Linked DNA regions of Homo sapiens. The protein of the gene in region 4 interacts with the protein of the main gene of each other region in a biochemical or structural test. Each region holds a gene or a part of one and is shown on either strand. Other genes may lie near its edges.

Evidence for each region.
Region 1: the proteins of LNX1 (region 4) and SHTN1 form a complex in vitro, tested with the Homo sapiens proteins (2 studies listed by BioGRID).
Region 2: of the proteins of LNX1 (region 4) and PBK, one has a biochemical effect on the other in vitro, tested with the Homo sapiens proteins (2 studies listed by BioGRID and IntAct, with this or other methods).
Region 3: the proteins of LNX1 (region 4) and RPS6KA1 interact in a test that uses a peptide from one of them, tested with the Homo sapiens proteins (2 studies listed by BioGRID and IntAct).

What each region holds. Positions count from the first base shown.
Region 1 is NC_000010.11:116,883,167-116,890,193, reverse strand, and holds part of SHTN1 (shootin-1), read left to right. Parts: intron 1-3,627; coding exon 3,628-3,850; 3' UTR 3,851-7,027. UniProt on the Homo sapiens protein: Involved in the generation of internal asymmetric signals required for neuronal polarization and neurite outgrowth.
Region 2 is NC_000008.11:27,820,806-27,827,832, reverse strand, and holds part of PBK (lymphokine-activated killer T-cell-originated protein kinase), read left to right. Parts: intron 1-4,627; coding exon 4,628-4,770; intron 4,771-5,344; coding exon 5,345-5,514; intron 5,515-7,027. UniProt on the Homo sapiens protein: Phosphorylates MAP kinase p38. Seems to be active only in mitosis. May also play a role in the activation of lymphoid cells.
Region 3 is NC_000001.11:26,567,761-26,574,787, forward strand, and holds part of RPS6KA1 (ribosomal protein S6 kinase alpha-1), read left to right. Parts: intron 1-3,688; coding exon 3,689-3,850; intron 3,851-4,088; coding exon 4,089-4,165; intron 4,166-4,415; coding exon 4,416-4,533; intron 4,534-5,463; coding exon 5,464-5,601; intron 5,602-6,318; coding exon 6,319-6,441; 3' UTR 6,442-7,027. UniProt on the Homo sapiens protein: Serine/threonine-protein kinase that acts downstream of ERK (MAPK1/ERK2 and MAPK3/ERK1) signaling and mediates mitogenic and stress-induced activation of the transcription factors CREB1, ETV1/ER81 and NR4A1/NUR77, regulates translation through RPS6 and EIF4B phosphorylation, and mediates cellular proliferation, survival, and differentiation by modulating mTOR signaling and repressing pro-apoptotic function of BAD and DAPK1.
Region 4 is NC_000004.12:53,476,485-53,483,511, reverse strand, and holds part of LNX1 (E3 ubiquitin-protein ligase LNX), read left to right. Parts: intron 1-1,657; coding exon 1,658-1,792; intron 1,793-4,769; coding exon 4,770-4,947; intron 4,948-6,530; coding exon 6,531-6,759; intron 6,760-7,027.

The DNA.
Region 1 (7,027 bases), on a different chromosome or scaffold from region 4:
AGAGGTTGCATTAAAGTAGAAAAAAAAATTGAACAGAATGACAGTATATTACAATTCCCATTGAAGTGTTGCATTTGAGCTTCTGGGATTTCTACCTTGGGGAGAAGCTTCATATTTAACCCTCTAGAACCTGCCACCATGACTACTAGAGTGAGAACTTGGGTTCTTGGCACCATCACTGATGCGGCTCTGTGGCTCTTCCCATACGATAGGAATGAAGGTAGAATGAGGCCTAGGAGAAAGAAAGGACTCTCATTCCAGAAGGAGTCTTGGGCAGCTGCCCGTGGGAGCCAAGAGTGGACCTAGTGATGTCAAGCCAGGAGGAGCTACAAACCACAGGGGAAAAATTAAAACTAAGGGATAGCTTGAAGGGATAGACTTTATTTACAGATCTGGAAGATGGAGATGGAAACGGATTCGGAAAGAATGAAATCAGTAAACATGCCAAAAACTAGCCTGTAGCCTCCTGTTTCTAGGAGAAGATGCCTTTGAGAAACAGCATGCTGTCATGGAAAAGGCAGAAACAGGGAGACAGGAGCTTCTGACTCTTGTTCTGACTCTGCCACTGATGAGCTGTGTGGTTTCGGGCCAGTTCCTTCCCCTCTTCATGCCCCATCATCCTCATCTGTAAAAGGACAGGTCAGACTAGACGATTGCCCTAGTCCCTTTCCACCTTCCACTGGGATTCTAAGGCAGTGGTCATTATCCTTGAGAAACCAGTCACTCTCCCTCCATGCCTAGATTCAGAAAATGCCCACTGCGCCTAGTTCAGTGATAACAAAGGGGTTCTCAAATTGTAGCCTATAAGTGACTTAATAATAGATTAATCTGCAGTCAAGAAGCTTGCTTCAGGACAGGGAGATCGTTCTTTGGACTGAGACAATTCCAGGACAATTTCAGCCTGACAATACTAGGTTTATGAGTTTTCAGTTCAATCAACATCCATGTATTGCTGCTGTGGAGCCCAGAGAGCACTTCCTGGAAATTTTTAGCCCTGAGCTGATGAAGAAAGCTTTTTCTAGGATCTGTGCACCACCCCTTCACCTACAGACACACACGAGCATGGAAACATCCATGGTAGTTCTACAGAAGTGATGAAGGTTAGTATGGGTTGATGGAAGTTGCTCACCTAGAATGAGAGAAATACTACCTCCTTTGCATGCTGAAAGCAGTTTGACTGGCTTACATAAGAGTGGGCCCAGGCCCAAGATGGTGAAACCTTCGTACTGGTGACTCAATCTGCAGACTTGGATGGGACTTTCCCTGGAACCTTAGCTGGGCTGCAGCTTTATTTCCTAGAATCTCCTCACCTGTTTGTTTTCAGTTTAGAGTTGCCGACAGATAAATCTGCATGAGATTTAGAAGGTGGAAGTGAAGTAGTTGTCTTAAAAAAATTTTTTTTAACCCTCGGAAGGTCCGTGTAGGGCAGGCTCTGTTATAGCTTGTGCATGACATTCCTGATGTGCTGACTCACCTAACTGGCATGTGGCAGTGACTGGCCCACAGTTTCTCCAGCTCCCCACATCTCCTCCTCCAGCTTTTCCAAATCCTGGGGCAGGTGCATGTGCAGCTCCTTGGGGAAGGCTCCTGCTTATTCTGCAGATTGTCTTGCATCATCAAGATTGGTGCTTGTGAGAGAGAGATAGGTGCAGCTCTAGTTTGTCCCCAGTCTCTGTCACTTTACAGCCGCCTTCCCTCCCAACTGTCAGAACAGCTGACTGCAGGCCCAGTGTCAGACGCAGAAGCAGCAGATTTACACAGACGGCATGACTAGTGCCTCTCATTCCCTAAGGTCTGATTCCTCTGATCAATCCTTAATATTACTCATAGTTGTTCTGCTTCTCCCATCACAGGCTTTTAAATATTGTGTGGGTCAGAGAGAGTCAAAACAGGTACCACTGGAGAAACTACACCCCATTCTGATTCCCAAAGCATAGCGGCAGATGTCTGGAGAAGTAGTTCCTTGGCCAAGGTAGATGGACAATGTCATGGTGCCATAATCAGGCAAAAATAAAGGAATCTGTCCTCACTACAGCACAGCCTGTCCCCAGGCTCCTGATTATTTTTGTTTTTACCACCTCCAAGGAAGACATAGTGTTTGTCACTTAGGATGATGACCGAGCCACACATAGGTAATATAACCCAGTAGCCAGAGGGAGTGGTTTTTAAACATTTGGACAGATCTTACAGTACTGGTCAGAAAGTGAAAAAAGCAGTGTGGTCTTTGGGTTTGAGGTTTTGTGCCCGTGACCGGGTCATGCAGGTTACTTTTGCTCAGTAGTTGATCATTTGTTCTGTTGTTTTTGTTGCAAGAGAGACATCCAGACCTACTCACACCCAAACCTTGATTTCTCCCCCTTCATTCTGAACCCTTCAGTTTATTAGTATTTGCCCATTCGTTTAGTCCACAAATGCATCTGTGCTAGGTGCTGGGGATAGAATTGTGAGTAAAGCTAAACAGTCCCTGCCTCGTGGATGTTTACATGCTATTGGAAGAGACAGACAGGAAACAATTGTGGTAAGTCCAACAAGGGAGAGGTATTAGGTGGTAAAAGAGTGTCTCCTGCCAGCTCTGACCTGCTGAAGGGGTCAGAGAATAGTAGAAACCAACTCCTGGTGAGGGGCTGGTAGAGCAGTGGGCAGGCACTGGCTGGCAGCTCACTGGCACCTGGCGGAACACCAAGAGGTGGGATGGTGGTGTGCCGGGTCATGGTTAACAGCCAGTTCTCAGGGACAAAAAGGCCTGATCCTAGCATTTTCCAAAAAGACCAGAAAAGTCCGAAAGCCCCAGCCCTGCCTGCTGCAGCTGCCTCCACCTTCAGGCCGCAGCTCAGCAGCCTGAACCTTCGGGTGTTTCAGAGATATCTGTTCCCATAATGAAATCCTCACCCATTCAGCCTGAGAAGCCATAGCTTCTTGCAGCAGAAGAGACGAGAGAAGGAGTCTGTGGAAAACTGCCTCTGAAATTCCATAAGAAATTTCTCAAGAAACCTGATTCTCCTTTTAGAAACATTAATGGTAACTTAGCATTTTAGCTTCTACTCTGGCTCTCTCTCCGCCCTTGGTCCTACCACCACCCCCTCCTGAAGTCTGACCAGGTCTCCTCTAGTTGGTAATGGCAGCAGTCAGCATGCCTCTCACCTGTCCATCAGTGATGAGGGGTGATTACTCCCCTTGTCCCTGCAGGCTCCTCAGCACTACCCTGCAACCAGCCATACCCAGGGACACACAGGAGGGAAGGGAGTTAACTGGCTCCATCCAGCTAAGTGAGGGCGGGTGGGGGTCTGGGCAGCAGGCTGTGAGAAGTTCACAGTTTGTCCATGAGCTTTACGCTTCCTGAGAAGAGAATGCAATTAAGCAGGTAGGTGCATTTGGCTTTTTAACACTTCTGTAGTTAATCGCTCTTTCTCTGCCTTCTTTCTTCTGGCCTTGTGCTCCTAGTATCAGCTGTGTAATCTGATAGCTTCATTTTTTCTTTTAAATGGCTGGCATCTCAAAGACTACTATATGCATGTTGATTAGACTTAGAACATTTTGGGTTTTATGTTAGTCTGAATCCAGAATATCAGAGACAACTATTTTCTCTCTCTGCTTTTTACTTTTTTTGTCTAACTCTTCATCTCATAGGCCTCCCAGTAGCATTGGATGCAGGAAAAAATACATTGACGGTGAAAAACAAGCCGAACCAGTTGTAGTTTTAGATCCTGTTTCTACACATGAACCCCAAACCAAAGACCAGGTTGCTGAAAAAGATCCAACTCAACACAAGGAGGATGAAGGCGAAATTCAACCAGAAAACAAAGAAGACAGCATTGAAAACGTGAGAGAGACAGACAGCTCCAACTGCTGATCCATAAACCAGAAGCCTGACATGTTTGGAAGTCCTTTTCAATAAGCACATGATTAGTGTTGTTATATTGGCAAGGGCTGTAGACATTCTGCTCTGGTCACTGTATTCAGAATACAGGTTCTTTTCTGGTGTCACTTTTGTAAGTAGCAACTATAAACATAAGTAAGCTGTTTAGCAAAACACACATTCCTAGTAGGTTTTGGTTTTTTGATCTTTATAAAGATGAGGTTTTTTTCCTAGTTACTGTATTAAGTATGACTTCTTTTAGAAGGTTACAAAAAAATTCAGATGTTGATACCTTTTTAGGAAATGTGCATACCACTCATCAAATGGAATGCTGAAAGTTTGAGGTGCTTGTATATAATCGGATAAACAAAACTGATCAACCCAATGTGATTTTAAAAGCCCCCAAAGAAGCTTCTGTTTTGGGTCTGATCCTCTTGATGGAGAAACTGCAGCAGCATGGAAATTGTTGGGTACTGTGGCATACAAGTTATTTTCTACAGTAGACTGAGATAAACTGAAAACTCAGGAGCTGGCATCAAACTCGTAGTCCCATAGTCAGTGTTAATTACACACATTGTTAACTATTGGATGAAAAATACATGCTATTGATTGTGTCCAAAGCCTCCCGAGGACCTCCGTGGGGATGCTCTGGTAGCCTGAATACAGAACTGAGGTGAAAGTCCAAACCTTGAATTTTACAGTAGTAAGTTGGTAAACCATGTGCTCTGTGCTATGAGTTAATTATGTTTTCCCAAATACTAATGTGGCACAAGTACCATATTTTATCAGAGTTCTTATGTACAGTATGGTGAAGATAAGTGACAAGCACACATTTTTCTTGCTTCACTGCTGTTCTATATTACACAGGTTTGTTGTTGTTTTTTTTAAAAAAGAAATTAAGCAGTAGTTAGTCTCTAAAAATACAATGTTTCAGGCTACCACAGTGAATAAATAGAAATGTAATCAGGGATTAAAAAAAAAACTTATGCAGCTTTTCAAAGTTGATTGTTTCAAAATTGGTGTTTATTTAAAATAAGTGGTAATGTACTTGAATGCACTTTTTATGACAATGATTCAGTAATGGTAATTTTACTATTAAAGAAAGTGAAAGGTTTAGTTTTGTTAGCATGGCTCAGCATGTAGCTGTCAGGTGTTTTTCACCTAAGGGCAAAAGAAAATGATAGTAATAATTGCAGTAGTTGTATTGTATTGTATTTTTGCACGTGTGGTAAGCATAGGCTTGAAGAGGTGGGTAGGCAGGTACATGTACTTCCTAAATTTGGAGATAATTATCTTTCTGTAAGTTCGTTATGCTTGACTGTTTCCATGTTCTCCCAATAATGATTTTATAGTTACTTATCACTTTACTCATGGAGAATTAAAACGTAATGTTTTTCAACTGTATCTTTCTTTAACTGGATAATACTGCTATATGATATGCTTACTACAGACTGCATTAATTCACGAAACGAATTCTGTTATGCTGTAATTTGAACTCTCCTCACCACAACTTATTAAAAAGGCACCAATAGTTTCCCATTAAGGGTCAGTTGTGGTTATTATTAACGTTTCTGGTTTAGTTCCCCAAGCTTGACATTCTTTAATAGAAAATTGTATATGATTTGACAACTTTAGTAATTTTTAATAGTCCCTAAGATGGTTTATTGAGTTTTCTTTCATGTTTCTTTGTGCTGTCTTCCTTCTTGCATCTGTGATCTGTCTGCCAGCATGCAACTCACACACATTTAGGAATATAAAAATATGTACACTGTCTTTCCATATTTCATCACACCATCACAGAATAATATGGTTATCAAAATACCCTCCTTTCTAGAGTAAGAAGTTGCCCTTTGGGTGAAATGTGTTAGCTGGACTAGGGAACAATTAGTAACAGGTATTTTGAAAGTATTCCTGCCTTTTTTAAGCTGCTTACTTTCTCTCACTGTGATTACAAAGCATTTTAAATTAATTTGACATGAAGGTATTTGATGGAAGATATTCACTCACCTTTTTCTGCCTACAGTTTTTCCCTTTTCACTTTGGTTTTGAGGGGGTTTTGCCCCTGGCTGGGGTGACACTGTCAACCAAAGCAAGGGATCCCAAATAGGAAGACATAGGAGAACCGTGCTTATATCTGCAAGGTATGTTCATAGCTATTGCACACACAAAACTTACATACGTCCTGCTTACACAATTTTAAGTTGGAAAAGACTGCATCTTTATGTTTTTGATTTCTCTAAAAGGTTATTTATGCTTCCTTCTGTTTGGGAAAGATAAATTAAGTCTTGTGCGCTATAGAGGATTTTTTTTCTTTAAGAAAAACGAATGTTGATGCATTTTATAGCCCGAGTGAGGAACAGAGATAGAGGTACTTTGTGCCATTGCTATTAAAGAAAAAGAAAATGTCTCTTTTTTTTTCTGGAAGAATAAGATTTTAATTAAAGCACTTGCACCCTTTTGTATGTGAGCTGGTCTCAAACAAAGTCCTCACCCACAGCAGTTTCAGCAGCTGAACAGTCCCATGGAAGTTCTGACTGGCAGGCATCAACAGGGCTATTAGCACCCAGCATAGTTTGCCCTGAGTACGGAGGATGGATGCTTTGGCTCTAACTACTCACCAATAATTGCTCCTTCCTTACCTTCTTTGTTAATGGTAAACTGCTGGAAATGGAGTAGTACAGGTAACAATTATTTTTAATTGTCTTTCCAGACCAGTTTTTGGTTGTGTGTTCAGTAAATGATAGTCTGTATCACAGCCTTCAAGTCTGGATTATTTTTCTAAATGCATACTCTACCTGTTCAGTTACACTCGTTGTGGAACAACATTAGCTTATATACCAGTAAGTTGTCGAGAATGGATAACCATCTGTCATTATCACTGACCTTCAAAGACTCATCAAGCAGTCCCTGCATAAGGATTGGAGTGGTTTGAAGTTTCTCTTCCAAGCACTAACATGTCCCTATCCCACAGTCATTTTAATTTGGTATGTGACTGTTTCTTTCATTTCTTTCACAGATAATATTATATATACAGTTATATAAATATATTTCATATTAAATGTTATATAACACAAGAGAGAGAAAGTATAAGTAGAAAGAGTGCCTAGCACCCTAAGAAATTTAAATTAAAATGCTAATTATCCATTGGTGAGTGCAGTCTCGAGGATAGGT
Region 2 (7,027 bases), on a different chromosome or scaffold from region 4:
GGGGAAAGGGTTCCTTTGTGGTAATTAAACCAGATTCTTCATGAGAAAACCTCAAAGAGGAAGCCAGTATTGGGTGATGTCAGTGACTGCTGTCTTTTCTGCAGCGTTGCCCTCCTAAGATATGCTCTTCTAAAAGAAGTAAAAGATTTTCATTTCTTATGGCATTGTTATTAAGAAGGGTAAATACATGATTTTAAAGTAGGAATATTGTGTTAAGAAAAATGAAATAATCGAACAAGTATGGTGCCAATATAGCTGTCAACAAAGTGTTTTTTTAAATTACTTTTTTATTATTCATATATTTTTTTGAAACAGAGTCTCACTCTGTTGACCAGGCTGGAGTGCAGTGGCACGACCTCCCAGGTTCAAGCGCTTCTCCTGCCTCAGCCTCCTGAATAGCTGGGATTACAGGCGTGTACCATCACACCCAGCTAATTTTTGTATTTTTAGTAGAGACAGGGTTTTGCCATGTTGGCCAGGCTGGTCTCGAACTCTGGCCTCAAGCGATCTGCCCGCCTTCGCCTCCCAAAATGCTGGGATTACAGGTGTAAGCCACCATGCCCAGCCCAAAATTACTTCTTTTAATCATTACTCTGTACCTAGTTTCATGTTTATTAAGTGGCAAACAACTACATCAATATATATTCCTTAATGCATTCTTGGAATCAGTCTAACTAGTCCAACCCTCCGTATCTTAGCTTCATCTAGGTTTACATTGTTTCCAGATAGAAATGCTTTCTTTAATAAGAGGCTAATTAAGAATAATTTAGTAATTATATACAATGGGTATTCCTGAAGCATTTTTGCAGTTTAAACATTTTTTTTGTATGTTTGTATGGTATTGTTTTCTAATTTGTTTTTTAGTGTTAACTCCTATTTTGAAAGAAAAAAATTCTCACAGGTTTATGGCTAGTTTCATTTTTTTCCCCCTTTTTAAAAAAAGTTTTTAAATGTAAAGTGTTTTTAACAAAGTTACACTGTATGTGGTTTAGTCAAAAAGCTTCAAATAGCTGATCTTTTTTTTTTTTTTTTTTTTTGAGACGGAGTCTCGCTCTGTCGCCCAGGCTGGAGTGCAGTGGCGCGATCTCGGCTCACTGCAAGCTCCGCCTCCCTGGTTCACGCCATTCTCCTGCCTCAGCCTCCCGAGTAGCTGGGACTACAGGCGCCCGCCACCACGCCCGGCTAATTTTTTGTATTTTTAGTAGAGACGGGGTTTCACCGTGTTAGCCAGGATGGTCTCGATCTCCTGACCTCGTGATCCGCCCGCCTCGGCCTCCCAAAGTGCTGGGCAAATAGCTGATCTTGAAGAACAGCAGTGCCTGCCTGACCCTACACTCCTCCTGATTCAGCCCTGTCAACCTGGGATTTCTTTTATCCATAACCTGCAAATTTCCTATGCTTCTCTGCTGAATTATATCCTGTGTTTTTAGGTATCTTGTGTCTTATTATTTCTTGATTTACATCCCGTTTTCATTTAGGACATCTGGTAGCTCCCCATGAATCGGTGCACAGAAGATATATTTTTTTGAGAATTTGCATTTCCAAAAATGTTTTCATTTTACTCATACTTGAATGGCCCTTTTTGGTTTTCTGGGTTACAATTCTCATTTGGAAACAATTTCCCTCCAGAATTTTGAGAATATCAGTCACTGACATTGTTTTTTTTCTAGCTTACACTGTTGCTGTTGAGAATTATGAAGCCTTTTTGACTGCTAATTCTTCATATGTAATCCGTTTTATGTTATCTGTCCCCCCCACTGTCCTGGATCCTGGTATGATCTTCTGTATGTCGGTAGCATTCTGAAATTTCACAATGACATGAGTGGATGTGGGGATCTTGGAATCTGAATAGTTCCTGTTCTTAAATTTCTGAGACATTATTTTAAAAATTACTTTGTTGATGATTTTCACCTCTTTTTCTCTGTTCTCCATCTGGAATCCAATTATTTGAATGTTGAACTTACTGATTTCTCATCTACCTCTTTTTTGCTTGGTTTTCTTATTCGCTATCTTTTTTCTGAGATTTCCCCAGCTTTATCTTTCAACAATTCTATTGAGTTTTTATCTTGTTTTTAATTAATTATCTTTTTAAAAATAGCATCTTTAGTCTCTTGGAGTGCTAGAAATGTTCGGTATCTAGGTGTTGATAACACAGGTATATGCACATGTAAAAACTCATTGAGCATTTAGTATGCATATGGTGATTAATTATTAACCTGCTTCTGTATTACAGGTTCTCAACTGACAGTAAACCTCAGGCTAAAGACTTGTTTTATACCTTCCAAAGCTAGTCTACCATCTTTAGAAGCTGGGGAAGGGGGGTGGGCAGCTGCCAGTTGGTACAGAATTAAGGAGGGTATCTACGAGTCCACCTGTTTTTTACCATTATTATTTAGAGACAGGGTCTCATTTTGTTGCCCAGGCTGGAGTGCAATGGTGCCATCATAACTCACTGCAGCCTCAAACTCCTTGGTTTGAGCAATCCTCCTGCCTCAGCCTCCCAAGTAGCTGGGACTACAGGCGTGGGCCACCACATGTGACTTTTAAAAGTTTTTTGTAGAGAAGGGGTCTCACTATATTGCCCAGGCTGGTCTCAAACTCCTGGTCTCAAGTCATCCTCCTGACTTGGCCTCCCAAAGTGTTGTGATTATAGTTGTGTGCTAACCCTTCCAGGCCTACGTGCTTTTTAAATAACTTGCAAGCAGTTCATTGGGGCTAAGTCAGTTACTTTCTTCTGCTTTCCAGCTTCTGAAATTTTGTTGCTGTTGTCTCTTCTGCTGTTATTTCCATTCTTGCTGGCTTGTATGTCTAAAAAATATCCATTTGCTATTATGTTAGTGGGCTTGGAAAGGATAAAAACAATGTGTATGTTTAAGCTACAATTTTAACCCAGAAGTCTATATTTTTTTTGTTAAATCAAGTTTGCATTTCTTGGTTAAATCCAACATAGTTTTGATGTAGTATTTTTAAATAAACTGATGGATTCAGTTTGCTAATATTAAAGTTTATTTCAATTTTTGCATCTGATATAAGTGAAGTTGGCTTGTGGTTTTCCTTTTTCTACTGTCCCTTTTGATTTTTTAAAATTAAAGTTATATGAGACTCATAGTACCTTTTCTGTTCCCTGGGGAAACAGTTTGTATAAGATTGAATGGTAAATTCTTTGAAAGCTTAGTAAACTCACCTGTAAAATCATCTGCACTTTGTATTTCTAGTAGGAACATTTTAAACTGGTGATTAAATTTCTTCATTCATCAGTTTTCTTAGATTTTTCTAAGTCTTTGACCATTTTGTCTTAAATGATTGCATAAAGATTTTATTTACTTACATATTTTTTCTCTTGTATCTGTAGTTTTGTTTCCATTTTTATTTGTGATATTGTCTTTATTTTTTCTTGTGTAATCTCATCAGAAATTTGCCTTTTTTCTATTAGTCTTTTTAATGAACCAGCTTTTTGCATGGTTGAGTATTCAGATTTCATAAATCTATTCTTATTCGATAGATTAGAATATGTTATGGAAAAGGTGAAGATTGACTTGTTTACTAAATTCTAAACTTTCAAGAGCTAAACTTTCAACCCTTGAAATTTGAAAAATATATTTTTCATAATAAAATGATATGCAGGTGCTCATCATTATCCTCAAATGCTGCTGTTATTTAAAACTGGAGGTTTAAGAATAGTTTAGATCAACTTACGGATGATAGATGTACATGAATTAAGAAATCTTGTGATCCTTTTAGTATAGGCTTTTTGATTAAACAAAAAAGGTTCTGCAGTCTTAGAGCTATACCTGTGAGGGAGTCCAAAGCTAAACAGATCTTTGATTCAATCTCTTGTTTTGTGTTCTTACCATTAAACTTTCTGTCTTAAACTTCTGAGGCTCTTTCACTAGGTTTTGTGCTGTTATGCTGCATATACTTAAGTATTTTGTGATTTGCTCTACTCATAAATATCTACCACCTCAGGTAAACCTTTCCCTGACTTTATTTTACCTATTTAGGCCTTAAAACATTTATACCTTAAATATTTGTAAAATGGCTGAATCTTCCTAGAAAATAGAAAGTTTAAAATTTTCTCATTTGTATGTTCATCATTATCTCCTTAAGCACATATCTTTGAGCATGTGGTAAAAGGTATAAGGTGAATTGGTCAGTGTAGGGGAGCAATAAGAACAGCATGCTGTTCTTTGGATGATGATATATGGGTAAAATGTTCTTGATTATCTCTTCTTTAAATTTCCTAATGTTTTTTTCTTCAGGATCCTATAACTCATCTCTGATACATATAATTAAATATTTAATAAGTTGTAGTCCAACATGCTCAAATGGAAAAATTGGAAAGTTACAATTTTCAGGTTTAAAGTTTGTAACATTCCATCTTTACCCTTCAAATTCTTTTCATCCTCTCCCTTCCACAGTATAGATAGTAAGACTTGTTTTAGTATATTAGATCTTACCTCCCAATTGAAATGGAAATGTAGCAGAGGTGTTCATAGTCCAAACTATTTTAAATTCTGTTTTTAAAAGCAAATTTCTTTCAAGCTTTTTCCCAAAAATTTGGAAGTCATTTTAAAAAGTATTGTGGTTTTATTGTTTTCTATCCTTTTTAAATGAATTTTTTTCTTAGATCTCCAAGAGGTTTGTCTCATTCTCCTTGGGCTGTAAAAAAGATTAATCCTATATGTAATGATCATTATCGAAGTGTGTATCAAAAGAGACTAATGGATGAAGCTAAGATTTTGAAAAGCCTTCATCATCCAAACATTGTTGGTACGTTTAAATTTGGTAGCAGTATCTGGTATATTATTTTGTTTATTCAGAAACAGCTTATATGCTCTCTTAACTGGTTTCACTAATAGAAATGAAGAGGATGGGGCTGGATATTTAATGGGTATCAAATTAATGTGATTGGTCTAAAATAAAAATTTGCATATAGTATTTTTTGATGCCTAAGTATATAAACTTCATGAGAACAGATATAATAATTATGTTGCTAGTTCTATGAAGATTTTAAGAATATAAAATGATCTTCATTTAGATAATTTAAATCCATTTAGGTAATTTCCTGGATTTCATTTTTCATTTTTAATACAAGTAGGGCTGGTGAAACTATTATATTTAGGGAAGCAAAGGAAAATAAAAGTATTTTAATTTGTGGTACTACTGGCAAACACTGAAGGCATTTTAAATGAGATCTACTGAATTAGTCTTGTAAATAGTAGCTGTTTCATTGTATATTTGTCAGCGTTAGTCCAGATCCATATTTTCAATCACGTTACTATAAAGGACTTAAATATTATTGTTCTTCTCTATATTAGTGAAGAAATGTCATGTTTTCTTTAAGGTTATCGTGCTTTTACTGAAGCCAATGATGGCAGTCTGTGTCTTGCTATGGAATATGGAGGTGAAAAGTCTCTAAATGACTTAATAGAAGAACGATATAAAGCCAGCCAAGATCCTTTTCCAGCAGCCATAATTTTAAAAGTTGCTTTGAATATGGCAAGAGGGTTAAAGGTAACTATGTCATTATATTTTAAATGACTTCTGTTTTTGTTCATATTTTAAATGAACAAATAATCACTTTGCAGGACATCTTTGAATGTGGATGGATATTGTTACTTGTCAGTTCCAAAAAGGGGTTAGCGGAAAACAAAATAGAGGCTTACATTTCTGCTTCCAAATTACATTCATGTGTAGCTTAATATGTTCTGAGAAATGTGTCATTTGGCAGTTTCATCACTGTGCGTGCGGACATCATAGAGTGTACTTACACACACCTAGATGGTAGAGCCAACTACACACCTGGGCTATGTGGTATATATAGCCCAGTTCTCCTAGGCCACAAACCTGTATAGAATGTTACTGTACTGAATACTATAGGCAGTTGTAACACAGTGGTAAGTACTGTGTGACTAAACATATCAAAACATAGAAAAGGTAAAATCAAAATATGATATTATAATCTTATGGGACCACCGTCGTATATGTTGTCCATCATTGACCAAAACATCCTTATACGTACATGTGGCCCTAGTCATTCATTGTCCCACATGGTCTCAACAATTTATGTATGCTTCACTGAAGATTCCAAAATTATTTCTAAAAATTACTAGACTAGCCTCAAAATTGTGGTATCTTTTGAAATCTGCAGTTGTATCTTCTGATATAAAGTATGTAGGATTAGTTAACTTACCAAGTTAACCAATTTATAAGTATAGTTAACTTATAAGCTGTCGGTATATATACATACTTATATATAAAAATAGTTAACTTGGCTGGGTGTGGTGGCTCACGCCTGTAATCCCAGCACTTTGGGAGGCCAAGGCAGGCAGATCACGAGGGCAGGAATTTGAGATCAGCCTGGCCAACATAGTGAAACCCCATCTCTACTAAAAATACAAAAATGAGCCGGGCATGGTGGCGGCACCTGTAATCCCAGCTACTCGGGAGGCTGAGGCAGGAGAATCGCTTGAACTTGGAAGGCAGATGTTGCAGTGAGCCAAGATCGCGCCACTGCACTCCAGCCTGGGCAACAAGAGCAAGACTCTGTCTTGGAAAAAAATAGTTAACTTATAATTATTTATTTTATAAGTATAAAAGGTTAGCAGAAGTATCTATTTCTAAATAAACTTTTAGACTTCTGGTCAGTATGGCAGACTGAGATAACATGGGATGTTCCCTTCTCTTGTTTCAAATACTTTGAAATGCTGGGCACAGTGGCTCATACCTGTAATCCCAGCACTTTGGGAGACTGAGGCAGGCGGATCACTTGAAGCCAGGAGTTCGAGACAGACCAGCCTGGTCAACATGGTGAAACCTCGTCTTTACTAAAAATACAAAAATTAGCCAGGTGTGGTGGTGCCCGCCTGTAGTCCCAGCTACTTGGGAGGCTGAGGCAGGAAAATCACTTGAACCCAGGAGGCGGAGGTTGCAGTGAGCCGAGATCGTGCCACTGCATGCCAGCCTGGGCAACAGAGTGAGACTCCGTTTTAAAAAAAAAAAAAAAAATTTTGAAACGCTGGACAAA
Region 3 (7,027 bases), on a different chromosome or scaffold from region 4:
GGTTACTGTGATGTCCATCATTTCCCAAGCCCTTTGCTAAATATTCCTGTCCTTCTCTATAAGCCTGGGGTTGAATACTATTATCAGCCCCATTTTACAAGTGAGGAAACTGAGGGCTACAGATGTTAAATGTCGTGCCCAAAACCACACAGCTGTGAGTGGATAGTAAAGCCAGGATTCACACCCTGGCCTGCCCGACTCCTTCCTGTGACTGGAATCCCAACTCTCCTGGAGGTCACGGCCTATTGCTCCAGTGCCTGCATTTGGCCTACACATATATTTTGTTTGGCCTGCAAGATAAGGGGTGTTTTTTGATTTGAGGTATGGTTTAGTAAGGTTTGGTAATTTGGCTGCTTTTAAAAACACTGGGTCCGAGTTGCTATGTAGTGACTGTCAGCTGGAGCCAGGTAGCTGCTGTCCTCTGTGGACTGCTTGGAGGTTCCCACTCTGCCTGGCTTCACTCATTACTTGCCCAGCCTGTTGTGATTTTCCATGCGGTGAGATGTGAGACTATACTTTTCCTCCCCCAACATACACTCCTGAGGGTCAGGTATCAGAATCACCTGTGGGGCTTTTTAAAGCTGTACTTCCCCTCCCCCACTCACCATCCCTACTATTCTGCCACTGGCAGTGGTGAGACAGTTTCCTATAGGAATTTGTAGTTTCTCTATGTTGTATTAGGGTAGGAAAAAAGATCAACAACTTGAGCCGGGCGTGGTGGCTCACGCCTGTAATCCCAGCACTTTGGGAGGCTGAGGCAGGTGGATTGCCTGAGGTCAGCAGTTCGAGACCAGCCTGGCCAACATGATGAAACCCCATCTCTATTAAAAATACAAAGAATTAGCTGGGCATGGTAGCAGATGCCTGTAATACCAGCTCCTTGGGAGGCTGAGGCAGGAGAATTGCTTGAGCCTGGGAGGCAGAGGTTGCACTGAGCCGAGATCACGCCATTGCACTCCAGCCTGGGCAACAAAAGCAAAACTCCATCTCAGAAAAATAAATTAATTTAAAAAAAAGGTCAACTTCCATATCCCTGTGTCCCAGTAGTGTCATGTGTGCCACACTAAACTGGAAAGACTATGGAATTCAGGTCAGAACTGGGTTCTGGTCTTGCCTCTGCCTCTAACCTACATGCAAGTGAGTTGTCCTCTCAGGCTGGGCGTAGTGGCTCACACCTGTAATCCCAGCACTTTGGGAGGCCAAGGTGGGAAGATCACTTGAGGCCAGAGTTTAAAACCAGCCTAGCCAACAGGGTGAAACCCTGTTTCTATAATACAAAAATTAGCCAGGCATGGTGGTGCACACCTGTAATTCCAGCTAACTGGGAAGCTGAGATATGAGAATTGCTTGAACCTGGGAGACGGAGGTTGCAGTGATCCAAGATTGTGCTGCTGGCGAGACTCCATCTCAAAAAAAAAAAAAAGAAAATTGTCCTCTCAGAGCTTTGGTTTTCTCCTCTGTAAAATGGAGCTAATAATTCCTGTCCACCCGCCGAGGTGCAGTGGATGGCTCCAGTGAGATCACGACTGGTAACATTCTTTGTAAACTGGAAGTTCACTTGTGCAGGGTAGTTGGTGTCCTCAGCCAAGCTGAGCATCCCTGACCTCTAGGTAGAGTCCACATTCCTGGGGGCCTGGCCTTGTGCTGTGGGCATACGATTGTGTTTGAAGGAGGGAGCCCACGGGACTTTCTCCAAGGCTTGGATACAGTGTGTTGCTGGGGCTACCCTAACAGTGTGGCCCTTTCCCCCTCATCTACCTGGCACTCTTCTCCCTATGGAGGTGGACTGTGCTGGGCCATGTCTACCTACTCCACGGGCTCCACGGGCATTGCTGGAGGGCTTGGAGATCAACTGAGACTATGAAAAGACTATCTGAATAAAACCAACTAACCTGCAAAACTCTACTAATCTAACCTGCAAGGTATCTGTCTCTGTGTTTCAGAGGTGTGATTTGTTCATTCATTGCACAAAGTTCACTTAGCATTTGCTCTGTGCTAGGCCCTGCACTGGGTGCTGAAGGTGAACGGGCATTCCACAGACATAGGGTTATGATCGTTACCGAAGGAGCCCCTGGTGGCCTGAGCTCAGGGCACCTGAGGGATGCAATGGACAGTGAGGCTGGAACAGATGATGGCTGTGCCTCCCATGTTAGGGTAGGGACTTTGGGCTTTATCTTGCAGGTAGGGAGCCTTTGAAGGTTTTTTGACAATGCCCAGGGAGGTTCCATTAGCTTAGGGGAGGAGGAGCAGGAAGATGAGAACATGAGGAGTTTAGTGTGGGATGTGTTGAGTTTGAGGCTCTGTGGAACATCCAGTGGTTGCCTTGTGGTAGGCAGTTGGATTTATGAGCCAAGACTCAGGAAAAGTTCTGGACTAGGGTTAGAGATCTGAGAGGTATTGGTAGTTGATAGTTAGAGGATTGACTATGAATGGAACTGTACAGGCCAGGCACAGTTACTCACACCTTTAATCCCAGCACTTTGAGAGGCCCAGGCAGGAGGATCACTTGAGCCCAGGGGTTCAAGAGCAGCCTGGGCAACATAGCGAGACCCTGTCTCTGCAAAAAATGTTTTAAAAATTAGCTGGGTATGGTGGCACATGCCTCTAGTCCCAGCTGCTTGCGAGGTCGAGGTGGGAGGATCACTTGAGCTCAGAGATTGAGGCTGCAGTGAGCCATGAATCATGCTGCTGTACTCCAGCCTGGGCAACACAGACCCTGTCTCAAAACAAAACAAAACAAAAAAGCCTTACAGAGTGTGGGGAGGAGAAGAATGAAATGTGGGGTGGTTCAGCCCCCTCAAGTTACAGATGAGCAAACAGGGCCCAGAGGAAAGCCGTTTGCTTATGGCCTCAGCAGTAAGTGTCATTCATCCATTCATTCAACAGATATTTATTGAATACCTGCCATGTACTAGGAGCTAGTTTAAGTGCTGGGATACAGCAGTGAGCAAAACACTCAGGGAGCTTACATGCCGGTGGGCAGACTCAGAAAACAAATTAAATATTATGTTAAGTAGTGGGAAGTGCTACAGATAAAAGTAAAGCAGTGTATTCTTTGATTTTAAAGATAAGGAAAATAGGGCCAGGCGTGGTGGCTCACGCCTGTAATCCCAGCACTTTGGGAGGCCGAGGCAGGCAGATCACTTGAGGTCAGGAGTTTGAGACCAGCCTGACCAACATGGTGAAACCCCATCTCTACTAAAAATACAAAAATCAGCCAGCCATGGCGGCGGGTGCCTGTAATCCCAGCTACTTGGGAGCTGAGGCAGGAGAATTGCTTGAACCCGGGAGGCGGAGGCTGCAGTGATCTGAGGTCGTGCCACTGCACTCCAGCCTGGGTGACAGAGGAAGACTCCATCTCAAAAAAAAAAGACTTTTAAGATTTTGACCTAAGTAACAGGAAGGATGGAGTTGCCACAAGGTAAGATTATGTGATGAGTAGGTTTTAGGGGAGAATTGAGAGTTCAGTTTTGACAGGTTAACTTAGAGCTACCTGTAGACACCTACACAGAGTCAGTAGCAGCAGCAATAAGACCATCATTTCAGCCCCTTCCCCTTCTCTCGGATGCCAAGTCCATGCACCCGTCCCTCTGCACCCTGTCTGTGTAGCTTTCTAATCTCTGGCCGCTGACCTGGGCCACTAGCCACCTCCCCACACTGAGAACTGACCCCAGCCCCCTGCCCCTAGGTTGTGCACAGGGACCTGAAGCCCAGCAACATCCTGTATGTGGACGAGTCCGGGAATCCCGAGTGCCTGCGCATCTGTGACTTTGGTTTTGCCAAACAGCTGCGGGCTGAGAATGGGCTCCTCATGACACCTTGCTACACAGCCAACTTTGTGGCGCCTGAGGTGAGTGGCCCAGCCTCCTCAGCTGTAAGAGTGAGGGGGAATTGGAGGCCTTGTGCCCCCTCCCAGAGGCCCCACATTAGCCGGGACTCCAGTCTCTGTGACCTTGGCCCAGCTGGCAAGGGAAGATCTAGCCTGTGCCTGGGACCCTTGTCCTGCCCTTGAGGGGAGTAGCAGGAAACATCTGTGGCGACTTTCTACTGCCCCCCCAGACTGACCACCTCCCCTGCCCTGTTGCCAGGTGCTGAAGCGCCAGGGCTACGATGAAGGCTGCGACATCTGGAGCCTGGGCATTCTGCTGTACACCATGCTGGCAGGGTGAGTGCCCCTGGCCTGGACCCTTCCCCACTCCTGCAGCCCTAGCACTTGGGCTGAGTGGTGCTTGTCTGATAGGAATGGCTCAGCCAGCCCCGCCCCAGGATGGTCTGGAAATAGGGACATGCTCCTGCCTCCAGGAGCTCTACCTTGGGAGTACCCCATCTGAGGGGGAGACACAGTCTCCCACCGCAGCCCCAGCCCCAGTATGGAGGCCAGAGTCTGTACCCAGACCGTGCGGGCTTTTCTGCAGATATACTCCATTTGCCAACGGTCCCAGTGACACACCAGAGGAAATCCTAACCCGGATCGGCAGTGGGAAGTTTACCCTCAGTGGGGGAAATTGGAACACAGTTTCAGAGACAGCCAAGGTGAGTCTGTACGGCCTGCGTGGGCTTATTTGGAGGAGGGAGGCAGGGTCCCATCCTAGGGCTTTTCAGCAGTTCATGAACAGCCTCATTTCTCCAAGCGGATGTTCCACAAATCCCTGTTGCTGTATTTCTCCAAGCGGAAGATTCCCAGGCAGACCACCACCACCTCCGTACCTTGTTGGGGTAACCTGGTGATCATTCATTGGCCCTTCTCATTCTGGACCCTGTGGGGCACTGAGGGCTGCATCATCACAGTCCCGGCTTTGTGGAAACGTAGTGTAGTGAGGGATACAGGTTTGCACACAAGGGGCAGAGATGCCTGGAGGCACAGATAGGCGGACGCTCTTGGCCAGGGGTGTGGACCGTGGAGACACAGAGCAGAGCAACTGGCCATGCCAAGCAGAGCCTCCTCGGAGGAAGTAGCATGTGAGCTTTCAGTATTAGCAACAGTTTTTGGTCATTGGGAACCTGTATGCCAGACAGAGTTGAACCCTCTATGTACGGCCGGCCACCTCACATCAACCTGTGAGGCAGGGAGTGGTTATTCCTATTTCTCAGCAGGGAAACTGAGGCTCAGAGAGTTGAAGGAACTTGCCCAGGGCACTCATTTGATGAGTGCAGAAGGCAAGTTTTGAACCTGAATCTGTCTGAGCCCAAACCTGAGGCTTTTCCCACCTTCCCACATGGCTTTTTGAAGGCAAAGGAGAAATGGAAGGGTGTTCCAGGACGAAGGGCCTAGAGCAGCAAAGGCCCAGCGACAGGAACCTTGGCTGTGTGCGGGGAGCCCTGGAGCAGAGTGGAGAATGGATCCCAGGGGCTGCCGCAAGGGTTCAGGCGGGAGCTAGCAGGAGATGGTTGCCCTCCTGTGCCCCATCAGGGGCCTGCTCCCCTGCAGCCCTCCCCCAACCCCCTTGCCCACTGTGTCCCCAGGACCTGGTGTCCAAGATGCTACACGTGGATCCCCACCAGCGCCTCACAGCTAAGCAGGTTCTGCAGCATCCATGGGTCACCCAGAAAGACAAGCTTCCCCAAAGCCAGCTGTCCCACCAGGACCTACAGCTTGTGAAGGTATGGCCACCCTTGGGCTGCTGGGCATCTGGGGGGTCAGCCCAAGGTGGCATGGTCAGGGACTTGTGGAAGAGCCAGGCAATGCCATGTCTGTACCAAGCACCATGAGGTGGAACATAGGAGAAGAAGACACAGCCCTGCCGTCAGGGAGCCTAACATGCTACAGTGTCACGGTGCACTCACAGCCCCCAATCCTCTGGAAGGCACAGCTGCTGACCTCTGAACCCTCCAGTCTGATGGGGGAGGCAGGACCCATGACCATAAAGGACCACTGAGGCTGGATTAACAGTGGGCTAGGCTGGGCGCGGTGGCTCACACCTGTAATCCCAGCACTTTGGGAGGCTGAGGTGGGTGGATCACGAGGTCAGGAGTTCAAGACCAGCCTGACCAAGATGGTGAAACCCCATCTCTACTAAAAATACAAAAATTAGCCAGGTGTGGTGGCAAGCGCCTGTAATCCCAGCCATTTGGGAGGCTGAGACAGGAGAATCGCTTGAACCCTGGGGGCAGAGGTTGCAGTGAGCCAAGATTGTGCCATTGCGTTCCAGCCTGGGTGACAGAGTGAGACTGTATCTCAAAAAAAAAAAAACAACAAAAACAAAACCAAAAAAAGTGGGCTGTGGAACACTGAGAGGGGCTGGCCTACCCTTGGGGCATGGATCCCCTCCCCGCTACATCTCCCACCATTGTGACCTGACCTCCCCACTTCTCTTTCAGGGAGCCATGGCTGCCACGTACTCCGCACTCAACAGCTCCAAGCCCACCCCCCAGCTGAAGCCCATCGAGTCATCCATCCTGGCCCAGCGGCGAGTGAGGAAGTTGCCATCCACCACCCTGTGAGGCACCAGGGCATTCGGGCCACAGGGCGGTGCTAGCTTGACACAGTCAGCATGCTTCCCAGAGGGAGCAGGCCGGAACCACAGGGCCAGAGGGAGCTGGAACCCGAGGGGCCGGGGAAGCTGCCAGCCCAGAACACCCCTAATGAGGGTGTGAGAAGTGCCTTCTCCTTCCCCAGGATGGACTCTTCTCGGCTCAGGCTCTGCTGGTGGAAAGCGATTCACTGTATAAACTTTTTTTTATGAAAAAAATGGCATCAACCACCATGGATTTTTACAAGATCCATTTGCCTTTCTGGGAGCAGAAACAGCCATTGCGGCCCCAGGAGGGGAACTGAGTCACGCTGGGGCTCTCTGAGACTCTTTAGAGCAGCTTTGGGATCCCACCCTGGGGACCCCCACGATTGGCCACCTGTAGCCATCTGCACACACCTCCGAGACAGTCCAGTGTCACCTCTCTCAGAGCATCTGGCTGTTTAGCAGAACTCATTCTATCCCCAATCAGCTCCTTTTCCGTTCTGTTCTGCTGGGAGTTCTAGAACCACTTCCTGCTACAGGAGGGGTCTCATGTCCTGCTGGCTTCCAGCTTC
Region 4 (7,027 bases):
GTTTCATAGGTCTAAGATTTAGTCTGAATGACCTGCAGCTCTGAAATCTCAATGGTCAGCAATTCTGGAATAATGGCCCATACTACCTGACACATGTGAAACTAATCTGTGGCAGAAAGACAATTTGTAAATGTATCATTGTATTTGTCTGCTCTCATGCTGCTATTAAAGACATACCCGAGAATGGGTCATTTATAAAGGTTTAATGAACTCACAGTTTTACATGGCTGGGGAGGCCTCTCAGTCATGGTGGAAGATGAAGGAAGAGCAAAGGGATGTCTTACATGGTGGCAGACAAGAGAGCCTGTGCAGGGGAACTCCCATTTATAAAATCATCAGATCTCGTGAGACTTACTATCTCGAGAACAGCATGGGAAAGACCCACCCCCATGAATCAGTTACCTCCTGCCAGGTCCCTCCGATGACATATGGGAATTATGGGAGCTACAATTCAAGGTGAAGTTTGACTGGGGACACAGTCAAACCATATCGATGATGTGGAGTGGACCTTTCCAATAAGTACTATATTTGCTATTCTGAATGCCTGTCCAAATATCAATGTACATAGCAGAGAGAATTAGCAGAGTAACTGGTAGTTCCATAAAAAATAAAGAAATCAAGGCAAATTACTCTTTTGCAGTTTTTTAAACATTTTGTATTTCAATAGCTTTAGGAATACACGTGGTTTTTGGTTACATGGATGCATTGTATGGTGGTGAAGTCTGAGATTTTAGTGCACCTGTCACCTGAATAGTGTACACTGTACCAAATAGGCAGTTTTTCATCCCTCACCCCACTCACCCTCCCCTTTTCTGAGTCTCCAAAGTCCATTATATTACTCTGCCTCTGCATCTCCAGAGCTAAGCTCCCACTTACAAGTGAGAACATGCAGTATTTGATTTTCCATTCCTCTGTTACTTCACTTAAAATAATGGCCTCCAGTTCCATCCAAGTTGCTGCAAAAGACATTTTTTCATTCTTTTTTGTGGCTGAGTAGTATTCCATGGTATATACATACCACATTTTCTTTATCTACCTATCAGTTGATGGGCACTTAAGTTGATTCCATGTCTTTGTGATTGTGAATTGAAGGTAAAGGATTTTGATTAGGTTGTACATATTAATGTATGAAGTCATCCCCATATTTCTAAAGTGCTAAACCTTTCCTATGCCCAAATATTTGCAAGTGTCAGGCTCAGGATTTCTCTTCCTGCAGTGGCAAGTTACTGCCATTAACTCCATCTCTTTTTCTTTACTGTGTACCATTGATCTTAGATCTTTGCTTTGGGCTGCTACTTTACACAGTGCACCTAATTCTATCTGGGAAGAACTTAGGGCATGGCTTGTGTGTGGTACAACCATTAATTAAAAATGAATTAGCAATATCTGATGATGCCTTTTCAAAGATTGGAAGGAACCAAACCTTCCCTAGTTTTCCCTTGGAGCAACATTTACTACCTGGTTTAAGGATAAAGGAAAGAGCTCTCATGCTCTTGGCAAATTACAAGATGGATAGTAACAAAAAAACCCAACAAACTAGAAATCATGTTTTGCCATAAAAAAATGGTATAATCAAAGTGATGTTTTTGTAAGCTCCTGGTGCTGAATGCAGTGGATGGAAACTGACAGTGGCTAATGCCTGTGTCTTCTTGCCCAGGCCAGTGAAAGACGTGTTCACCTCGTCGTGTCCCGCCAGGTTCGGCAGCGGAGCCCTGACATCTTTCAGGAAGCCGGCTGGAACAGCAATGGCAGCTGGTCCCCAGGGCCAGGGGAGAGGAGCAACACTCCCAAGGTGAGGCCTCTAGGGCAGGTCGCCTGCTCCTGCAAGGGGCTATTTCTTGGGAAGGCTGCTTGTTTTAACATGTCTAAGTGTCATCTCTGGACTTTTTTACTTAAAGAAACACTTTGACTTGTAAAACTAAAAGCCCAAAGTCCCATATTTAAGACTTGGAGAGATAACAGGTGTCTCCCATCCAAGCAGGAGAGAAGAAGGTGCAGGAAAGTTTTGAAACCTGATCATGCAGACCTCATACAGGGACCTGATTTCTAGCCTAAGCCAAATAAATGGCATGTTTTTACCAAGAGTCATCTTGTTTGAGGACTTATTTTATTCACTTTGAAATGAAGCAAGCAGTTTGCCTGGTTTCTGGCTTTTGAATTTTTCAGTCTGCCTAGAAATGAGTGATTTCCCCGCTACTTTTAGTTTTTGTTTGTGTTTGCCGAAGGGCCCAGGAAGATAATTTAAACACTTGAAGCTCATGTAACATTAGGGAGTGGTGGGGATTGGGGCAAACCAGAGAGCACATGTTATATGGCATTCAAATCCAGAAAACTCTAAAACACTGTGGATCTGTGGGTGGAATTCATTCTTCAGGCCACCAGTTTGCAGCCTCACTTTAAATGAAGTGACTCAGCCCAATTTGTACTTCTCTCTGTGGCTTCTATTAGAGGCAATGCCTTAACCTCTTCATTTGGATGCGTGTTTAAGCAACACAAACCTTGTTTAGTCCAAATTAAGAGTCCTATAGCTTTGGCTTGGCATCCTGTTGTGATGCTGATGAGCTTCTTTCAGTCATCTCTCCTGAGTTCTGGTTTCATGGCATCACTTGTAACTAAAAAAAATTCTTAAAGGTAGCTCATTCTTCTTGCAACAGAAAGTAGGGAATGCCCTTTTCTTTCTACGTCAATCTATATGTTGGTTGGAATAGCTTACAAATTGAGTTTTTGAGTAATATATAGAGAAACAATATTCAAATTTTTTATTTTGGAACATCTCTGCTTTATACTATGTTAATTACATAGCCTACAAGGTTATACACCCCTCCAGGTTCTCCAGCCAGCCAAGCCTCATAAATCCATAAATTACCTGTTTCTCTACAATAAGGAGTCTAGACAGACCAGATATATCCTGCTAAAACATTTTATGGATAAGGACTCCGTGATGTCTTTTTGCTAGTAAATGCTTAATGTTTAAATTTAACTGATCATCTTTATTAATGAAAAACTAGTTTATTAGCTTAATTAATTAATTGAAGTTTTTATCCAATTAACTAATTTTAGTTGAATTAACTAGAATACGTCATATTCTAAGTCATCAAATTATGGAGAAGGTAGCCTCCATCTGCACTGTGGTTTTAGAATTCCTTCCACCTCCTCATCATGAAAGAGCTGGGAGGATCTGGTCACATTTCTGCTGCAACCCTCTGTCATATGTCTTAATTCCTGGAAACGTGCAAACTGACTTAGTCGGAATTGTAATTATTTCCGTTTTAACTTATATTCTATCTGACTTCTGAAATATCCTCACAAAAAAGTAACATATTTAAAAAAACTGAGACATATATGGCTCTTTGATTATTTCAGTTTTTATATTCTTACTAAAATCTTGTTTGGTTTAGGAAACCAGGTAGCTTTTTAAAAATAAGAGCTTAAACAATTCAAAGAAATACCAAAGAAGACAAAGCAGGATTTGTGGGACAGAAAACTTTTAGCCAATTAAAAAAGTTAAGGAATGCTAGGCATCAAATTTTGCATGGTTTACCTCTGTGGGGAGGCAAGGCCTATGAGCAGAAAGAGTCATAGAGCGACTAAGTGCACATGGAATGTTTATTTCTGATGTAGGGTTTTGAGGTACATGGGTAGGTCATTCTGTTATTCTTTATGCTTTTTTACTTGTCTAAAATGTTTTATTCTAAATATCCAAAGCAAATATTCTAAAATGGAAATACATCTTATAGTTTGAGAAATATTCAGGTACCCATTGTGTTTTTAATTAGCTTAAACTATTTTACCATAAATTATGTTTTTAAACATCAAGGAACATTGTAAGGTGTCCAAAGTAGGGTGAGGAGAATGGCGAAAAAAGATAGATAGAAAAGTCATCTCTTTCATACGTAACTCTCCTCCTCTCCAGCCAAAGTCAGGTAACCCTGGGTGTGAAGCTTTCACAGATGATTTTCTTTTTCCATTGCTGACATTGGTCGCTTTTCTGGTTAAGAAAGGAAATGGTCATGGACACTGGTTCATGAGACAGGACACATGCACACATGCCATATTTGTGGTATTTCAGCCATTGCATCCAGCCCCTCAGTGCACAACTAAACATCTCTTGCTCACCGCAGGCAAGGCTGCCTGGTAAGCACTGAGCAGGTGTGAAAGAAGACTCTATAAAATATGGTTACTTTTTTTTAACATAGAAAAGTTTCTGATATTTATAAATGACAGAGTGTTTTTGAAATGCTGACTCACTACTATCAGGAATAAATGACTCACTTGAGAAATTTTGGGTGCAGTTCACTCTGTGTGCTTAAGATTCCTCCATGGCCAGGAGCAGTGGCTCATGCTTGTAATCCCAGCACTTTGGGAGGCCAAGGCACTTGGAGCCAGGAGTTCCAGACCAGCCTGAGCAACAAAGCAATACTTTTTCTCTATGAAAATATTTTAGAAATATATTTTTCTAATGGTCTGTAATCGGTTCCTTCCTCCATTTTTACTCTTTCCTTTTGAAGTGTAAACTTTATCTGAGTTAACCTGTAGAATTTGGGACAATGTAACCCTATTATGGTTGGGAGTGGATAAGGTGAGGGTTCTTTCCAGGTGTCTTTCTCTGTGATTTCAAGAACCACCATTGTATTTATGCACTTTGCATAATTTATGCAGCTTTGGTAATTTTTGCATTTAGAAAATGGAAACCCACTTTGCATTTTCTACATTCAAAAACTACCAGAGTTGTGAATTCATGTGCCATGTTTTTCCATCTGTGCCTTCAGCCCCTCCATCCTACAATTACTTGTCATGAGAAGGTGGTAAATATCCAAAAAGACCCCGGTGAATCTCTCGGCATGACCGTCGCAGGGGGAGCATCACATAGAGAATGGGATTTGCCTATCTATGTCATCAGTGTTGAGCCCGGAGGAGTCATAAGCAGAGATGGAAGAATAAAAACAGGTAAAAAGTAAAGGGATTTTAAAGGCACTGGGGTGGCAGAGAATCAAGAGAAATTAGTAGCTTGTTAGGTGACTATTTTCAAAATTAATGAGAGAATGTGGGAGTGATCGGCCAGGACTTTTGTTACCCATTGACCATGATTGGTTTGAGTATAGATACTAGACCAGGTTCCACTTTTCTTAGTTGCAGGCCAACTTGCCTGCAAGTAAAGCTAGAATCTCCAAACTGTTCCAGGAATTAATAGAGAACTGCTACAGTTATGAGCAAGTTACCTCTATTAAATGGCATAATGTAGTTCCATTCATTCTAAGTGGTTCTTTAGTGGGTTGATCCGGTGGTGGAATTCATGAAATAATTCATGAATTATTCAATTATATGGGTTAGATAGAAAAAGTCATTTGATAGATTTGATTCAATGAATACTCATTAAGTGAAAGTATCATGCTGGATACTTTCCCAGAGTGAAAATTATTTCACTACTTTAAGCTCATGTATTCTGGGCTACTTTGAGTAAATAAAGGAAGATGATATCAAATTTGCCTCTACAAATATGTATCCTTAATAATATTGTCAATTCATTCAAGAGGGTAGGTAGCTCAGATGGGTGAGGAATTATGCCATTTAAAAGTCCAGGTTCAAGAGATAAACTGTGAAGTTTCCCAAGTACAGCTGCTGAGCCTGAGGAGCCACAGGGGGATGGTATCTTAAGAGATTTAGTCAGCTGTCTGAAAGATGCTTCTTTCGGGTCAGAAAGGACTCAAGGCCTTTCTCTTTTTTCTCCTCCTGTCTTTTTGCTCTTGCTGTGGTTATTCTGTATAAGAAAGTTAAGCAAAAGGGGACAGAAAAAAACAGGATGAAGATAAAAAAATAGAAAATGGAAATAGGGGAGATGTATATTTTAATTTCTCTTTTCTGCAAAACATCTGGGTGGAAAATGATGAGGCCAAACAAAGTGGCTTGTTAACAAATGACTTGTTAACAGAACATAAGCTAGAGGATTATATGATCTATATGGAAATGATCCTGCACATAGTAGGCGCTTAACCAATAGTAGCTATTTTCACCTTAGCAATGAAAATGTTTTTCTTTCTGCTTCTTTAAGAGTGCAGCTCCAAGACTCCTCTGCCAGACACTCTCATGGGTAGTTTCTTTTCATTCAATCCATATTTACTGGAGGCCTACTACATGCCTGGCTCCGTGCAAATGCTGGAGCTTTTGCCAAATCCTCCTACTTTATGCTAAAAACAAGAAACAAAAGAGTGAAAAAGTAGGTTTTCTTTGATTAAATAGTGAACAAGACTAATTTTCCTCTCTCACTCCCTTCCTTCCTTCCTTCAGCGGTATTCTTGTGTAAAACACCGATAGCTGTGCTTTAGAAAACCCCAAACAAGTCTTAACAGCACCTTGGAATGCACACACTGTTTACCATTTGCTATGTGAGCACCCAGCCTCCCGTCAACAAAGAAAACCTTTGCCCTCTCTGCATCCCTGCAATCCCAGTCAGCCCCTATCCCCTTGCACTTTAAGCAGAAGTCCCTGTTTGTGCTCTCACTAAAGATAGCTTCTGCTTCTCTGGCCATCAGGTGACATTTTGTTGAATGTGGATGGGGTCGAACTGACAGAGGTCAGCCGGAGTGAGGCAGTGGCATTATTGAAAAGAACATCATCCTCGATAGTACTCAAAGCTTTGGAAGTCAAAGAGTATGAGCCCCAGGAAGACTGCAGCAGCCCAGCAGCCCTGGACTCCAACCACAACATGGCCCCACCCAGTGACTGGTCCCCATCCTGGGTCATGTGGCTGGAATTACCACGGTAAGTCCAAACACAACATCCCTGTAGGGGCGTGGGAGAAAACGATTACATTTCTTAAACCACTCTTTCACTCTCTAGGGCTGATTCATGGCACTAGCATCTTAATTAGACCCAGTCTTGGTTGTGGGACTGTGAAATAATTCTCTCTTCCCATTTGTAACTGAAAATGCATGCGGACATTCTAGGGCAAAGACAAAAGCCTGGATGTGGAAATACTGTTTGGCGTTCAGGTTGAGGAGCTCACAGGACTGCCATGTACAGCTGTGTA